Regions from separate parts of the Homo sapiens genome. Here region 1 is linked to region 2. Evidence: fine-mapped expression QTL. A gene starts in region 2. The other region holds a variant in brackets. All regions are shown on one strand. Distances are between the middles of the regions.

Region 1 (5,382 bases), 130 kb before region 2:
TTTTTCTGCTTGCAAAATACTTTTAACTAGTAGTTTTCTTAAACTTTCACAATATTAGTAGCATTTCCATACAATTCCCTGTGAAACCTATTAACCAGGGAATGTTCACAGTGCTTATCTGTTATTGAAAAGATGGAAGTTTTAAAAGATAGGAATAAAAATTAGCAGTATATTGATTTGAAGCAACATTAATGTATAGAGGTTGTCTCACCCAGTGATCAGTGGTCCATTGTTGAGACAGTTCAGGAAATATAATCCGTTTAACCTATGATAAAACAAGAAGTTTACAGAACTAGAAGTTTATAAAAAGTATTTCTAAGACATATAATGGAAAAATATAAAAGTAGATTTTATAATTTAGTAATATAGTCAGCTATTGTGTTAGTCCATGGAGTTTATTGATTAAGTAAAGGAGTTTTGGTTATTATCCGCTTCATCCTTTTTTTGTTGCTTCAGTTCATTTCCTTGAAGTTCTCCATACACAGTGATTCTTAATGTTAGTACAAATTTGAAAGAAGTCTCACATTGATTTTCTAGATAAGTGATAACAGTTCAATTCATCTGTTCTTAGTTAAAATTTGAATATATTTAAGTTGAATGTATTTGCCTGGTATAACATAACATTTTGAAACCACATAGTTTCAGTCTAAAGTGGAAAGAAATGGCTCAGAATAAAGCAAACAAAAGTCCATGTGATAAAATGTAGACAGACTTTTATCTTCTACTATAGATCATTAAGTTTAAGGATTCTTTTCATTTCGTTTTTTAATCAGCTCCTCAGAAGAAATATCACGTTACCAAGAAATGATTCAGAAACTTCAAAATGTATTGGAGTCTGAGAGAGAGAACTGTGGGCTTGTCAGTGAACAAAGGCTAAAACTTCAGCAAGAAAATAAACAGTTACGGAAAGAGACTGAGAGTTTAAGGAAGATTGCCCTGGAGGCTCAAAAAAAAGCCAAAGTAAAGGTATTTTCAAGACTAGAGTTAAATGTGTACTTATGAAAATCAAAGTATAGAGAATATTTAGAGAGACCTAGCAAAACATCTTTAAGGCCCCCTTTTTTTTTGCCTTCTCATCAGATAGCACTAAATCATAATTCAGAGTGTTAACCAATCATTTCTGTGTTGTAGAACTTGGCAGGCATACTTGAAAATGATTGCCTTTGCTACACACAAAAAAATTCTTTTCCAACCACGAAATATACTGATATTCCTGCCAAAGCAATTTAAGCAGCACTAGCAAAACCATGGATTAGATAACTTTACAGACTGCCTTCCTCTCTTCTCTCTCTGTAGTAGCCTTTGAAAAGTTGAACTTCTCTAAAACTAACTGTATAGAGGATGTTAAAGCAGTAGGCTCTGAGAACCATTCATAACTAGTCTGAAAATTCCATGGCAGGAAGAAGGCAAGAGGCAAAAATGTCATCTAAAACAAATTCCCTTTCTTTTCTCTCTTATTTCCTTCTCCTCTGATGCTTATATGGTTTGGTAATAGGAAGGTGATCCTCTTTTTAAGGGACTTTCAAGTAACACAATCTTCATCAACATCTTGCTTACCTTTCCCCATGTCATGAGACTTTTGTAAAAAGTGGCACTAACTTTTTATGATAAATATCTACATCTTCCAATTTCATAGTAAGAATATGAAGAGGTCATGTCACTGTTTTATTTTGGTTTTTATTGCTGCAAGGACTCCTAAGAAGTCATATTCCAACCTAATTCATGTCAACATAAATTTATTGAATGCCTCCTATTGCAGGTATGAAATGCCCTAGTTATTTGTAAAACCTTGAACTCCGAAATGAAAAAGAGAGTCTTATTTAAAAAGAAGTTTGTACTTTGACCTTTAGACTATGGGAGTTCTTTGAAGAACAAGGAGAGGACCCATACCGCCAGATATCAAGACTTGATAAAAAGCTAAAATAATTTAGACAATGTGTTATCAACATAAGAATAATCAACTTGATCAATGGCAAAAAATTGAGTCTAGAAACAAACTCATTTATCATAATCACTTGATTTATAACAAAGGCACCATTGCAGTTCAGTGGGGGGAAAACTGGCTTCACAAATGGTGCTAGATCAGTCAGATCCATATTTTAAAAATAAAACTTAACTCCTATATCACAGCATATATGCAAATTAGTTGGAGCTGCTTTGTAGACCTAAATGTGAAATGTGAAATGATAGTTTCTAGGAGAAAATCTTCTTGCCTTTGGGTTTGAAATATTTCTTAAACAGAGCACAAAAAAACACTAACCATGGTGAAAAATCCAAGCTGAACTGGATTTCACTAAAATTAAGATATTTTTAGTCACCAAAAGACACCATTAAGAAAGGGAAAAGTGGGAGAAAGTATTTGTAGTGCATATAACCAAAAAGAGAACTCATATCCAAAATATAAAAACTTTTACCAATTAATAAGAAAAATATTAATAAGGAAAAAACAGCTAATAGCTAATAAAGAAAAAAATAGATACTCCATTTCCAGAAAAGGCCAAAAGACTTAAGTAGGCACTTCATAAAATAGCATATAGGCAAATATGTTCAACTTCATTATTTTTTAGGAGAATTTAAATTAAAACTACAAGATAACACTACACACCACCAGAATGGCTAAAATTAAAAAGACTAAAAATATCAAGTATTTTTAAGAATATAAAGCAATTAGAACTTTGATAGATACTGCTGGGAATGTAGCATTATCTTTTAAAGCCAGACATACATACATCCTGATACGGTTTGGCTGTCTTCCTACCCAAATCTCATCTTGAATTGTAGTTGCATAATCCCAGTGTGTCATGGGAGGGACCCAGTGGGAGGTAATTGAATCATGGGGGCAGGTTTTCCCATGCTTTTATCTAAAGAGCTTTTAAAAATATAAGAGAAAACTATTTGTAACCGAATAAAAAATCATGTGAGAGTTGAACAGAATCTGCAATCTAAGAAAAAAAAACAGTAGGCAGTAAGCAGTTTAAACTCACCATTAATTAATTGCTAAGTATCTCTAAGTGAACGTGCAGCTAAAAGTATTAAATGGT[A/G]CGTATTTACTTTAGAGTCTAAAATTCAGTCATAAGAAAGTAATTAAAATATTTCATAAATAAGTTCATTGCAGCATTATTTATAATAAATTAGAAACAACCTAAATATCTAGAAGTAAATATGTTACATCTATATGTATAGTAAAATTATGGAAAATACAAAACATTAAAAAAAATATATAAAGTCCCTCTACTCCCAAAACTCAGATAATACTTCTAACTTCTACATAATTGCTTTTATTTATGAATTTTAAAATTGTTACTATAGTGTATAAAGGATTACTACCTGTGTGTACACATATGTATTTTTGACATATAGTGTATATGTTTTTAATAAGATACTGTATTGTCATTAAAAACTATATTTCCAAATAATTTATAATGCATTTATATTGATACACCCTATGATTGAAAAATTTATGTGTATACACACATACATGTAGTAATCCTTTACATACTGTAATAACAATTTTAGAATTCATAAATAAAAACAATTATGTAGAAGTTAGAAGGGATTATCTGAGTTTTGGGAATAGAGGGACCTTATAGTTGTCTTTTTAATGCTTTGTATCTTCCATCATTTTATAATATATATTTGTTTTGTTTTCTTTTTTTTAATCATGGGTGGGGATGGAATCAATGAATTTTCCCTATCTAGTACTCCAGTTGATCCGTCTTTAACATTTCACTTTAATGCTTTGTTATTTTCCATAATTTTACAATATGTATTTGTTTTGCTTTCTTTTTTTTATAATGAGTGGGGATGGAATCAATGAATTTTTCCTATCTAGTACTCCACTAGATCCGTCTTTAACATTTCAGGATAGTAACTGATGTTATGGACAACAAAAGAGTAATAGAAAGTTTATCTACCCCACATATCTCACCAAATCTGTATCTAGCTTAAGAGAATAGCCATTGATAAAGAGCCGAACGTCTTAACTAACTAGCTATAATTCTATTTTATGGAGGAAGAAGGCTGTAAGATAAATTGCTTTGTAACTGATTCTTTCTTTGACAAAATAGGAACCTGGTGCACCTACACCTTGCTGTTTTTCTCCCTCTTGCAAAAGAGTATGATCTTCAGTAGATAAACTGAAAGAAGCCAAAAAGATAAAGACAGTGAGATATTGGGAGGTCAGTTGGCTACAAACCTTAACAATTTATCATATGAAGTTTTCATTTGATCTTAATGCCACTGCATTGATTTCAGCCCTCGCTTTCTCCTTTTCTAACCACTCCTTTTGCCAGGGCTCTCCATTTCTTCATGGTCTAAATTCCGCCTCATTACCATCTAAAATTAAGAAATGGAGTCGTTTCCAGCAATTCAGTTATCTACTTGTGTGGATATTTCTCTGTAAAGGAAGGAAGAAGCAAGAAAGAAGAGAGACCATAAAACCCCTTTTCCCATCCAACATTCTGAATTTTATCATTAATAGAATTTTTGTAATCGGAGATCAGTTGTTGTGGCCCTTAGCCTGTCAGCATTACCACAGACCTGTCCAATTTAGGTAGTAATTCGAATTGTATATACTAAAGGCTATGGTGCTTGTTCGAGACTGAATTTTGACATCAAAAAGCCACCATTCAATCTGCAAATATGTTTTGACAACCGTACTGTGTTCCAAAAGTTGAAATAGGTAAGCAGAAAGAGATTATTTCAGGCAAAAGAAACAGCATGTGAAAAGAACCAAAGAATAAAAAGGCATTATAGTGGAAATAAAAGAAAGGCAAGGGAATAGTGTGGCACAACACAAGCTTGTAAAAGTAAGCAGGGACCAGGTTATCATAAAGGGTCTTAAAGCAAAGCTTGTGAAACGATAAATAGATTTTCCAAGTGAAAATGGGGAGTTAACTAGGCAGCCAAATTCTAAAACTGTACAGATGCATAGATCAGTTTTGTGTGCATATGTGGTTTGTTGTTGTTGTTGTTTTTGTTGTTTGTTTGAGAAGCTCTGTTGCCCAGGCTAGAGTGCAATGGCGTGATCTTGGCTCACTGCCACTGCCACCTCCCAGGTTCAAGCGATTCTTCTGCCTCACCCTCCTGAGTAGCTGGGATTACAGGCACCCACCACCTCGCCTGGCTAATTTTTGTGTTTTTAGTAGAGATGGAGTTTCACCATGTTGGCCAGGCTGGTTTCGAACTCCTGACCTCAAGTAATCTGCCTGCCTCAGCTTCCCAAAATGCTGGGATTACAGGCATAAGCCACCACACCTGGCCCATAGATCAGTTTTTAACATGTGTTCATAAGAAAGAACTCACAGGGGCTGTACTTTTTGTTTTCCACCTGAGATGTTAGACCAACATGACTTCTCCAGAGGAGATGAAGATTAAGGAAGG
Region 2 (5,382 bases):
CCAGCCCTCTCGTTACTAGAAGGCAAGCTAAAGCTCCTTTTAAACGGTCTCCGGATGACGACGCATTCCTAACGGGTTTCGAAGGCATGTTTAAATCGCCCGCTTTTTTGTTTGCTCTCAGCATTCACCGGCGCCGGGACTGCGGCCGCCCCCACCCGCTTGGGGTGGGAAACCTGGGGCCAGCGGAGCCTGGCGCGGGAGGAATCCTGGGGCGAGGGGAGACCCGGGACGCGCCAAGCCGGGGTTGAGGACTCGAGAATAAGGAGCTCTAGTGGGAGGGTGGCGGAGTGAGAGGGGACGTGAGAAGGCTAAGGATCCCAGCAAGGGGGGCACCCCGGGGTTGTGGGGGAGCTCGGCCGCCGCCCCGCAGCGGCGAACGCTCCGCGCGGCTCCCGCCGCCCGCCGGGGAATGCGCAGGGCCGCGGTTCCGCGCGGCGCCGACCCCTCCCTCTCTCCCAATCCTCCTCCTCCTCCTCCTCCCGAGGCGACAGAAACAACAGCGCGGGAGGAGGGGAAAGTAACTCCCGGCACCTCCGCCGGAATTAGCCCCGGTGCAGTGATGACACCTTCTCGTGGCGCAACCAAGCCCCGCTCCCTCCGCAGCGGCGTCCCCGCCGCCGCCGCCCTCTCCATTTGAAAGTGGCCACCCCCCGCCGCGGCAGCTCCTCCCGCCCCGCCGCCGCCAGCTGCACCAATCCGCTCGGCCCCAGTTGCAAATCAAACGCTCCCTCGCGTCCAGAAGCCACTTGCGCCGCTGGAAACGGCCGCGCCGTCCCCCTCCCCGAGTCCCTCCGGGGCGGCACCTTCGGGCTGGGGCGGGCGCGCCGGCGAGAAACGGTTTTAAGATGGGAGCGGCAGCGGCGGCGAGGAGCTCCGAGCGGGCTCGGCTCCCGCTCCCGCTCCCGCCCCCAGACAGTTCTGGAAACTGTGTATCACCTCTGTCACAGGAAGCCATCCGGCGAGGAAGGCGGCGCGGAACCAACAAACAAACGCCTGCGGCCGCCCGCCGGAACCGGCGCGGGGACCGCGTCGGGCTTCGGGCCGTTCCCGGGGCGGGGGCGCAGCGGCCACCCCCGCGCCGCGGGCTTTGTGCGGGGCGGGCGCGGCGGGCCGGGCGTCCCCGCCCCCGCAACCCCCCACCCCGGCCCGGGCGGCGCAGCTGGGACCGTTAGGTGACGCTCCGGCCGCAGCGGAGAAGCAGCGCCTCGGCCGCCGCCCGCCCCCATTTCCACACTGGGCCGCCTCTCCTCAAACACCAGAGGCGGGCTACAAAAGTTGGCCCCGGGGCCACCCAGCACCTGCCCACGTGCCGCGGAGGCTCGCTCCCGAGTCTCCCCCGGTTCCCTCCCCCGCCGCCCTCGGCCGCCAGGTCACCTATTACCGGTGGGAGGGGAGAGAGGCTGCTATTTAAACGCCCGCGGAAGTTGAGGCACCCCCACTGGCGGGTGCCGTGCACCTGCCTCCCGCCGCCGCGCTCCGCCACTTTGAGCAGCAGCCGCGTCCTCAGCCCCGCCTCCTGCCCGAAGGCGGGCGGGGGGGAGCGGGAAGGAGGTGGAAGGGATCGAATTTCTCCAGCAAATGGGACCGTTCCGACAGGATTCGGTTCCCCGGTCAACATTCCACATTCCATCCCTCTCCCGCATTTGCAAGCCAATGCCGAGCAACCCGGAAAGCCTGCTGGCTACCGAACAACAGCCCCCAACTCGCAAACACAGACTCACAGGCACAAGACACGTGCACTGAAGGGCTCTGCAACTTGCAGTCCCGGGGTACACACTACACGTTCATTTAAGGAAGCAAGGAGACCAAGAGACCCCACCCCCACAATTTGCAGATGGTGCCAAAGGTTGCAATTTGCAATCCCCTTTAAGTTCACGATTAATCGGTACTTTGCTCTACCAACGCCAACTCCTACCCCATTTCATCGATTAAGGGGTTTTACACTTTACAAGCAGTCGCGCTGTAAGTAAAAGATCTGATCACTGGAAGCCCAGTTCGGAAGAATCTAATTGCCAAACTGTCCCTCCACCCCCACCCCCACCCCCCTCTCACTGCCCTTGAATTGATGCAATGAATATTTTGGACATGTGGTGACGCGGTGACAAGAGCCAGGGCTGCGGCCACCACACACAGATGTACCTACGCACACCTATGTTTGGACAAATACAGTCCCACCACACACACGGTCTCACACACTCTGGATTCATATATGTACGCGAACCTGCGTTCTGCCATTGCCATCTGTCTACCAAGTTGCTACTATGCTTTCCACTTTCATGCAGCCTAATGCACTTTGGCTTTCTAAAAAAAAAAAAAAAAAAAAAAAACCTATAAACTAAAGCCAACTTAAACTGGGCTTCTGCTCCTAAACGCGTTTAATTGATGATTCACCTGAAAACCGCATGTTCTTCGCAAATCCAAAAGAAGAAATAGCTCTAAGTCTTCAGCCCCCCAAATTTGAAAAAAAAAATCATAATAAAACTTACTGATCCAACATAGATCAATTCTCAGGATCCAAAAATCATCCTCTCCTCCTCCTCCGGCCCCCGCCCCGGCAATGCCCAAGTTACTGGTGGGATAGTAACGCTGCGCTCAGCGGCTGCCTCCCTCCCTCCTCGCTACAGATCGAGAACCCAATCTTTTGGCGCCATATTAATGACGTATTATATTATTTCCACTAGGCAGCGACCTTCGGCATTAAATTACTCCCGAGAACTCCCGAGCAAAGCAACAAAACCATCAAATATGGCTGAGCCTCTCGGCTCGTCCTGCAGCCGCCGCCGCCGCCGCCGCCGTCGCCGCCGCGGGACCGGGACGCGCACACGGACCCACACGCGGACACGCGCGGACACACGCGCGGCGCGCCCACCCCGCGCGCCCCCCGCGGCCCGCGCGCGTACCTGCTGCGGAGGGGTTCGGCCGAGGCGCTGGGCTGGGCGCCGCTCGCTCGCTCGGAGCTGCATGAGTTCGGGCCGCGGCGGGCGGGGAGCCGGGCGGGCCCCTGCTCTCGCCGGCGCGCACACACCGGGCACTCGCGCACGGAGGCACTCTCGGTCTGGCGTTTGGCTTGTTATGGAGGAAGGACTATGTGAATCAAACTCATTTCTGGGTCACTGCTGCCACAGGGGGGAGCACTTTAATCCCTTGCCAAAACGAGAGGGTGGGGACGGGAGGGCGGAGGGAGCATGCGGGGAGCCCGCGGCGCTGGGGCTCGGTCCCTCGTTAACTCTTCGCAGCCCTAGCCGCAGCCGGCTCAGCCTGCGCCAGTGGGGGCTCGCAAAGAACGGCACTGTTCAGCTCTTAGTCTCTTTCCTTACTTCACCCACCTTGTGAGCCTAGAAATTCTTGAGGTGTCTCCAAGCAAGTGGGTTTTTAAATTAGCCCCTTCAAACTGCTGTCCCAGTTTCAACTCTTGTCTGACATCTAGAAATGGATTCTTTCAGAATAGTTTAAAATTACGTAGATTAAAATATGGCTATTAAGATGTGTCATTTGGGTGAAAGGTTTTATTTTTAGGCTGAGTGGCAAAATAGTTGTTTGTAGTAACAGTTTTAGGGAGTTGCACATTAGGATGACATTTTTAAATAGAGAGAATCCAATTCTGAATAACATCTTTACCTAAATTTGTATGGAAGTGATCATTGCAAATGAGCATTAATTCATTAGAAGATATTATTTATAAATTGACACCACTTTATGTTACACATTACTACAGAATTGGACATCTTCTCCCAAATATGAGGAGTGAGCCTAATGCTAAAACTAGAATTGCAGACTAGTATCAGATCAGTCATCGGAGATTCATTTGGGGGTATTTATGTGTAAAAAGGAGTGGTTACTGATTTTCTGCAGAAGACAAGCTTGCTTTTTCATATAGAGGGCAACATACTTCTTTCATGGATTCATCTAGGGAAATAGAGGGGTATATGACATTCAACTTCAATAAGAAAAAAGTACGGATTAAAAACTCCCATTCAGGCCGGGCGCGGTGGCTCACGCCTGTAATCCCAGCACTTTGGGAGGCCTAGGTGGGCGGATCACCTGAGGTCGGGAGTTCAAGACCAGCCTGACCAACATGGATAAACCCTGTCTCTACTAAAAAATACAAAATTAGCCGGGCATGGTGGTACATGCCTGTAACCCCAGCTACTGGGGAGGCTGAGGCAGGAGAATCGCTTGAACCCGGGAGGTGGAGGTTGTGATGAGCCGATAATGCGCCATTGTGGTCCAGCCTGGGCAATAAGAGCGAAACTCCGTCTCAAATAAATAAATAAATAAATAGGAACAGTGATCACTAATTACAAAATTGAATATCGAACCCAAAAGGCATATGTGTCCACCGGAAGAATCTTTCTGAATATATCAGGTTTGATTTCATGTAATCCCACACCAGCCCAACTACCCACATCCAGACCCACATCCAGAACGTTATAATCTGATAAATGCGACAAAACAAAACTAATTGAGCCTTTCAGTTATTTTTCAGAAAACAAAGTAAGCCAGTGGAAATCCTAAGTACTGTATATGTCCTCTCCTGTTTCGCTAATGAAGAGTAGAAAGACTCCCTGCCAGTCCTATTCATGTGTTCACTTAATCCTGTTCAAAGCGATCACACATGTAAAGCACTGTGTTAACTATCATTATTACTATTCTTAGTATTGCACTTGTTATTGTTATTTTTACTGGTTCACCTCGCACATACTCTCTGTAGAAGTTAAAGTACACAGGCTTTGTAGCCAGACATGGCTGGATCTGGCTCTATCAGTTAGCAGTTTGTGTGCCTGTGGGATAAAAGAACTTTATCTGAGCCTCAGTTTCTTCCCTGGTAATAAAATTAAGTTAACAGCTGGCCCCTAACCTGAAGGGTTGTTAAGAGGAATCAGGCAACCTCATAACAGTTCAGGAGTAGAGGCCCTGGCAGTAGGAGGTTGTCCACTCCCTCGGCCATCACTCAACTCCTTCTTGGTTTTCTCTCCATCAAAAATTGCAACTTTTCTAAATTCCAAACAGCCTTACTTCACGCATTCATGTTAAGAAAATTTTTGTCGACCGGGCGCGGTGGCTCATGCCTGTAATCCCAGCACTTTGGGAGGCAGAGGCGGGCGGATCACGAGGTCAGGAGATCCAGACCATCCTGGCTAACACGGTGAAACCCCGTCTCTACTAAAAATACAAAAAATTAGCCGGGTGTGGTGGCGGGCGCCTGTAGTCCCAGCTGCTGGGGAGGCTGAGGCAGGAGAATGGCGTGAACCCGGCAGGAGGAGCTTGCAGTGTGCCGAGATCACGCCACTGCACTGTAGCCTGGGCGACAGAGCGAGACTCTGTCTCAAAAAAAAAATTTTTTTAACTCACATTTGCTGCTTACTCTTTTATTTGCTTTTT

Evidence for each region. PIP is the estimated chance that this variant, and not a neighbour inherited with it, causes the effect.
Region 1: its variant is the best candidate, but not a certain one, in a credible set for the expression of JADE1 in whole blood (TOPMed, PIP 0.54).

What each region holds. Positions count from the first base shown.
Region 1 is chr4:128,938,580-128,943,961 of GRCh38, reverse strand. SCLT1 (sodium channel and clathrin linker 1) reads left to right here. Exons shown (of 21, transcript NM_144643.4): 17 at 774-966. Among named protein-coding and RNA genes, the nearest start is that of JADE1, 130 kb to the right of the region's middle. The variant A/G (reference allele first, on the strand shown) is at 3,042.
Region 2 is chr4:128,807,396-128,812,777 of GRCh38, reverse strand. JADE1 (jade family PHD finger 1) reads right to left here and starts at 3,078. Exons shown (of 11, transcript NM_199320.4): 1 at 2,901-3,078. RefSeq lists silencers at 266-835, 1,016-1,115, 1,236-1,515, 2,146-2,265, 2,776-3,255 and an enhancer at 2,566-2,675.